Homo sapiens: one gene and its partner. The protein of the gene in region 2 purifies or fractionates together with the protein of the main gene of each other region. This does not show direct contact. Each region holds a gene or a part of one and is shown on either strand. Other genes may lie near its edges.

Evidence for each region.
Region 1: the proteins of CD9 (region 2) and ITGA6 purify together in Homo sapiens (co-immunoprecipitation; 3 studies listed by BioGRID and IntAct, with this or other methods). This does not show direct contact.

Annotation. Positions count from the first base shown.
Region 1 is NC_000002.12:172,490,066-172,493,717, forward strand, and holds part of ITGA6 (integrin alpha-6 isoform b preproprotein), read left to right. Parts: intron 1-958; coding exon 959-1,057; exon of another isoform or gene 1,058-1,155; coding exon 1,156-1,266; exon of another isoform or gene 1,267-1,359; coding exon 1,360-1,458; exon of another isoform or gene 1,459-3,652. UniProt on the Homo sapiens protein: Integrin alpha-6/beta-1 (ITGA6:ITGB1) is a receptor for laminin on platelets. Integrin alpha-6/beta-1 (ITGA6:ITGB1) is present in oocytes and is involved in sperm-egg fusion.
Region 2 is NC_000012.12:6,206,794-6,210,445, reverse strand, and holds part of CD9 (CD9 antigen), read right to left. Parts: intron 1-3,652. UniProt on the Homo sapiens protein: Integral membrane protein associated with integrins, which regulates different processes, such as sperm-egg fusion, platelet activation and aggregation, and cell adhesion.

The DNA.
Region 1 (3,652 bases), on a different chromosome or scaffold from region 2:
CTTTTTATGCTTATTTTTAAAATAGTAATTATTTATTGTGTACTCATTGTGTCTCAGGAACTATGCTAAGCATTTTGTTTTCATTTTCTCATTTCATTCTCTGGATGGTCCTATGAGGGCGTTTCATTATCCTCACCATTTCACAGATGAGGACATTAAGATTCAGAGAGCAAGTAACTCTCTCAGTCACTCAGGCGTTAAGAGACAGATTCCACATACAAGCCCTGCTCTGCCTGATGTCAAAGCCTGTACTGTTAACCCCTCTCTCTATACTGCTCCATGCTTAGATAACTGGCCTATCATTTGTGTTCCAGTTTGATGAAGGTTTGCATGTTTATTTCTTTTATTTTAAATTCTAAGGTGACTGGGTATGATCAGTGATCAGAGTTGGTGGCTTATAGCATGATCTTCTACTCATCAATGTTAAAAATCAAGATAATCGGTTATTACTAATCTTTGCTATAAGGAAAATGCAATTTTAAAAGTTCTTGTATGGCTTAGTTTTCATTGCTCTGCTCTGAATGAGCTATATAATGGGTCTTTTTGCTTCTTTCTCTGTTCTTCAGTGTCACTTATTCCTTCAAGATGTGCTGACTACCATGTTTTAGGAACAGAGCTGGAGGCTAGGGATACAGGAATAAGATTTGATCTCTGATCTCAGTATGCCCACAGTTTGGTGGGGATACAGAGGAACAAAGAAAGCATATTTCTCTTTCTCTGAGTTTTAAGGTCAGAGTGGGAATGAATTACTTAGTCCTATGAGTAAATCAATAAACTTGAATTTAGAGTGATAATACTTGCTGGTTTTACACTTACTTCTGTGCCTTTGGCAGGAGAGAGGCAAATATTGTTGATTATGTGAATCTGGCACTGTTTGGGAGGATATGCTCAAGAGGCTTGTATGGTAATGACAAAGAATTACATAAATTGGAACTATTTTGGATATAATTTTTTTCAGGAGTCTCACAACTCAAGAAAGAAACGGGAAATTACTGAAAAACAGATAGATGATAACAGAAAATTTTCTTTATTTGCTGAAAGAAAATACCAGACTCTTGTAAGTATTTTTCAAGAGCTGTGAATATTTGAGAGGATGAGGGGAAGGATTTCTTCAGAACAATGTCTTTTGATGACCATTCTTCTTTTTCTCTCTAGAACTGTAGCGTGAACGTGAACTGTGTGAACATCAGATGCCCGCTGCGGGGGCTGGACAGCAAGGCGTCTCTTATTTTGCGCTCGAGGTTATGGAACAGCACATTTCTAGAGGTATGACCTTGGCTTGAGGCTGTCCCATGGAAGTAATTTGCCTTTGCCTAGGACACTTTTCACTTCCCTAATGCATTCACTGTCTCCAAACAGGAATATTCCAAACTGAACTACTTGGACATTCTCATGCGAGCCTTCATTGATGTGACTGCTGCTGCCGAAAATATCAGGCTGCCAAATGCAGGCACTCAGGTGAGAGGTTCCCCAGCTTCATTCAGGTTCAGAACATGTCTCTTTTCCCTGTACCCCACACTCATGTCCTGAAGTCATGTGCTTTGGTGCTCATTTCCCTCATAGCCCCATTACGGAGAAAACTGTCTTAAGGTACTGGCACTGCAAGCTGTATTTTAATAGAATCATTGAAAAAAAGAAGTAAATCTAGGGTCATCCAGTTCAGCAGTGCCCATGGTAGGTTTGAGAACTACTGGCTCAATTCAGAGAATGGGTGCACCTCACAGCCCTCTAGAAACCTGTGTCTTCTACCATCTCTAATGCTGCAGCCATTGGTGTAATGCCCCAGTGATGGCCCATCCCTTGGCCAGCTGTAATTATTAAAAAAGATCTCTTCATAGCTGACTCCTGAACTGAACCTTGTAAGTCCCTGGTTATGCCCCTCAAACAAGTCTAAAATAAGTTCTCTCTCTTGGCCATGTAGCAGCCTCTCAAATAATTGAAGGAAATGGTCATGCCTCCTTGGATGTTTCTTATTCTTCTCAGAGCTTATGCACCCAGCTCTTGAGTTATGCGTCACATTGGGCACAGCTGAACTGGCTCCTGGCCTCTCCCTTCCTGGGCAATTTGATTCCCACGTGGACAGAGCAGCTGAGGTGGGGTCTGCTTGGTCCCACTTACCCTGGGGCCTTTACCTCTCAGCATCTCGGCACCACACTTCTGTCAGACCTGCCTAAAATTTGCTTTTTCAAACCATTGCTGAGCAGCATGTTTGAATTTCTAGCAGCTGCTATTTTTGTGTTAGTGTTCTACTGAAACTTCCAGGTGTTTTCATCAGAATTTGTTGTCAAGCTGTGTTTCCAGTATCCTGTCCTTGAGCTATTTGTAAAAATCTAAATGTATGCCTTTAAGTGTATCCTTACATTTTATGTGATTTGCTTTGGGTCCATTGTTTCAGTTTGCAAAGTAATTCTGAATCTTGCTTCATCATTTGCTTTCTCAACTTTCTATCCCTGAAAGTTTTAAAAACTGAGAAGCATGTTCTCTATGTCTTCATCCAGGTAATGACAAATATGTTGAATAGGACTAGGTGTAGAACCTTGTAGTGAACCAATAGTGAGGGGTTCCCTGTGGGAGTCTAGAACCCACAGGGACTTGTATAAAGATCTCGAGGCAGAATGACTGCATGTCATGGTGGGAATAATGAATGGGAATGTTTTGCAAAAGAGACTGGAGAAAGAAATACTGTGAATTACTGTTCTTAAGTTAATCTGCCAGTCTACTTATGGAAATGTTCTGGCTTCAGTCATTTAGCTAGCTGAAAATTCAGGGAGCCTCCCTAATCATTCTGTTTTCTGAAATATAGCAGTCCTTACGATTTATTATCCAAGCAAGAATACATTTTTGTTTTTATTTAGTTTTTTGAGATGGAGTCTTGCTCTGTTACCCAGGCTGGAGTGCAGTGGCGCAAACACAGCTCACTGCAGCCTTGAATGCCTGGGCTCAAGCAATCCTCCTGTCTCACCTCCTGAGTAGCTGGGACCACAGGCATGCCACCACGCCCAGCTAATTTTTCAGTTTTTTTTGTATAGCCAGAGTCTCACCATGTTGCCCAGGCTGGTCTTTAACTCCTGGACTCAAGCAATCCGCCTGCCTCAGCCTCCCAAAATGCTGGGATTATAGGTGTGAGCCACTGCACCCAGCCCCAGGATACATTTGCCTGAGACAAATGCTGTACTGGGCAAGCTGCTGCGATAAGTGGTATCAACCAGCACTGTCCCGGTCTCTCCAGGACATATCAACAGGCATCATAAGGGACTTTCAAATAAACCACACCTTCCCTAAGGATCCTTTCTCTGCATCTATAAAGGCAGCAGGTATAGCTTTCTATAACTGTAAATCAGCAACTCTGAAAATCACTGAGATTTCAGAGCTAGACAGAGAACACTTTAGAGGGAAGGGACTAACATTAATGAAGCCTTAATAAAATGTCTGCAGCTTACTAGATACTTTATACTCTATCATTCAAACTTCAGAAGAATGCCAAGGGTAAACATTGTACTCATTTTACAAACAAGGAAGCAGACTCAGAGAGGGGATATAATTTGAGACCCTCAATTGAAACCTGTAATTGTCTGACTTCAGGGCTTCTGTTCTTTGACTCTGTGGCACTTGGTCCCCTTAAAGTCCCCAAATCTCAAATTGAGATAAGAAA
Region 2 (3,652 bases):
GCTTCCTCTCCCTGGCCTTTGTCCTGAGAGCTTCAGCCACACCCTTGGTTCCACTGGTCATATAGTCAGGGTGGACAGAGGCGGCGCTCTGGGAAGGGACTCTCCAGGGCAACTCGCACATCCTCCTTTCCCCTTGGCTGCACTGTTGCAGCTGCCCATTGGCATTGTGTCCATAGACGGGACCGCAGCCCGTTCAGTGGCCATGGTCCTTCCATCCCCCGTGAAAACAGCCCCAGAGTGGGACCCGGAGCCTCTGCCCTTCCCCAGAACCACCCTGCCAGCAAAGGGCAGAACAAGATGACATCAGCACAGGCCTCTCTGTGTTATAGCCCTGGGCACGAGCTCTCAAGACACACCCCAGGGTCCTAGAGGAGAGTGCCAGCCTCCCATGACAAAGAAGGCCAAAGTGTCCCTCCTCATCCTAGAAGATAATCTAATTTCTATTTGAAATGAGCAGTCCCAGCTGGGCGCGGTGACTCACGCCTGTAATCCCAGCACTTTGGAAGGCCGAGGTGGGCGTATCACCTGAGGTCAGCAGTTCGAGACCAGCCTGGTCAACGTGGCAAAACCCCATCTCTACTAAAAACACAAAAATTAGCCGGGCATGGTGGTACATGCCTGTAATCCCAGCTACTCAAGAGGCTGAGGCATGAGAATCGCTTGAACCCAGGAGGCAGAGGTTGCAGTGAGCCGAGATTGTGCCACTACACTCCAGCCTGGGCAACAGAATGAGACTCCATCTCAGAAAAAAAAAAAAAAAAAAAAAGAAATTTGCAGTCTGGGTCTCTAAAGGGTTGTGTCTTAGGGAGCCAGGGCTACAATTTGACTAGAGAGGAGGAAAGGAGAGTATGAAGAGATTTTCTCAGGCTTGTAGACAGGAAGCTTTAAAACATCTGAGCTTAGCAATAATAAATTTAAATCCACAGTCCCACATTGTGAGAAAGAAGATGTTTACATTGCACCATGGAGAGCAGGAGGAATATGTCTTAGTGGGAAGGGCCTCCCGTCTCTAGGAACGGGGCCGCTGAGGGAGGTATGGATGACTCCCCACCCAGAAAACATCCAGTGGAGTTGGGCATAAATCTGGGGTGTGCATGCACACTACACACTGCAACTGCCCACCTACAAGGGAAGACATGATGTGGATTCAAACACCAGATTTCTATTGACTTGAAAAGCTACGACGAGCCCGGTGCGGTGGCTCACGCCTATAATCCCAGCACTTTGGGAGGCAGAGGTGGGTGGATCACCTGAGGTGAGACCAGCCTGGCCAACATGATGAAATCCCATCTCTACTAAAAATACAAAAATTAGCTGGGCGTGGTGGCATGTGCCTGTAGTCGCAGCTACTCAGGAGGCTGAGGCGGGAGAATCACTTGAACCTGGGAGGCAGAGGTTGCAGTATGCCAAGATTGCGCCACTGCACTCCAGCCTGGGTGACAGAGCGAGACTCTGTCTCAAAACAAACAACAAAAAAAGCAATGATGAGTTCACAAATAGTATGATTTTGCTGATCATTTCATTTAGAGTTTTAATAAATCAGTACACTGTATTATCATACTACATTCAATCAACTTAGGTTTAAAAGACATTAAACTACACACCTGTAATCCCAGCACTTTGGGAGGCTGAGGCGGGTGGATCACCTGAGGTCAGGAGTTCAAGACCGGCCTGATCAACATGGAGAAACCCCGTCTCTACTAAAAATTAGCCGGGCATGGTGGCACACCCCTGTAATCCCAACTACTCAGGAGGCTGAGGCAGGAGAATGGCTTGAACTCAGGAGGCGGAGGTTGCGGTGAGCTGCGATCGCACCATTACACTCCAGCCTGGGCAACAAGAGTGAAACTCCACCTCAAAAAAAAAAGAACAAAAACAAACAAACAAACAAAAAAAACTAAAATCCTTGAATAGGTTTTGAATTAATAAATTCATAATTAATAAAACTGCCTGATTAACTTTATGGTATTTTTAGCCTCAGTCGAGGTTCTTCTCCTATGACCCATGTATTGTGTTGTTTCTGAACTTGGAGACTAACACACAGCTTAGACTGGGAGTGTCAGCAAGGGACTGGCACCTGAAGCTGTGAAGCTCAGTTCCGAGGAGAGGGCTTGGCAGGAGCCACCAGCTGCTTAGCCTGCTCAGAGGTGTCACTGGAAACTTGGATGTGCATTGGGTAAGCTGTGAAGGGTTACTTTTCTTTTCTTTTTTTTTTTTTTTTGAGATGGAGTTTCACTCTTGTCGCCCAGGCTGGAGTGCAATGGCACGATTTCAGCTCACTGCAACCGCCGCCTCCCAGGTTCAAGCAATTCTCCTGCCTCAGCCTCCCAAGTAGCTGGGATTACAGGCACCTGCCACCATGACTGGCTAATTTTGCATTTTTAGTAGAGAGGGGGTTTTTCCATGTTGGCCAGGCTGGTCTCAAACTCCCAACCTCAGGTGATCCGCCTGTCTCGGCCTCCCAAAATGCTGGGATTATAGGCGTGAGCCACCGCGCCTGGCCTGAAGGGTTACTTTTCTAGCAGAGCTCATAAGAGCCACTATTTCTTCCCTCAGGCACAATGCCTGGCTTAAGGATTGAAGAGGAAGGGCTCTTAAGACCCGGGTTTCTGATTTTTCTCCAAGTCAGTAGTCCCCAAACTTCTCTCTACCGGGACCTCCTCTGGAATCACATTAATCCGGGCCCCTCTCCAAGTCAGGCTGCTTTGCCTTTCCCAGTTACTCAACCAGGCTGCTTCTCAACTCCTTGGGAGTGCAGCTCCCCAAATGATCCCTCCTGAGACATTCCTCCTTTCTGCAAGTCCTCAGAGGACGAGACTTTCCGTCTGCATTTGGAGGGAAGGAGAAGAGAGACAGACCTCCTTTCTTCCTGAACAAAGATGAAGCACCAAGCTCTGGGAAAAGCTAAGCCAAGAGGCCCAACCTGGCTGGAAGATCATACAGTTGCATTTTTCGTGTGTACTAGAAATACAGAGCACTCATTAAATTAACCGAGTGAAAACCACTCCTTAGGCAATGATTAAGCTGAGAGTCAGAGGGATGGGTGGGAGGCCAGCTGTCCCATCTGAGCTGCACTTGATCACTAGGGAATTTATCATTTCTAATGCCTTTCACAAAGTCCCCTGTGATGCCCCCATTGCAGCCCCCGGGGAACGGTGAGGCAACCTGCTTCTTATGGCAGAAATATGGGACTCAGGACAGAGCAGGGGTTGTCTGGAAACTGAGGGAGAAAAACCAATATGGGGCATTTATAGCGTGAGCTCAGGCTGGGCGTGGTGGCTCACATTTATGATCCCAGTGCTTTGGGAGTCCGAGGCTGAAGGACTGCTTGAGCCCAGGAGTTCAAGACCAGCTTGGGCGACATAGAGAGACCCTCTCTGTACAAAAAAATTAGCCGGGTATAGTGGTGTGTGCTGTAGTCCCAGCTACTTGAGAGGCTGAGGCCAGGATTGTGTAAAGCCCAGGAGTTTGAGGCTGCAGTGAACTATGATGGTGCCACTATACTGCAGCCTGGGCAATGGAGAAAAAGGCAAAAAAAAAAAAAATGTCTATGGGCCTCCAGAAACAGACATAACATTTTTCTGGAGGCAGGTCGTACTGATTCCAAGGAATTCCCTAAAAAGGAATTTCCCTAAAAACGTTAAGATGTATT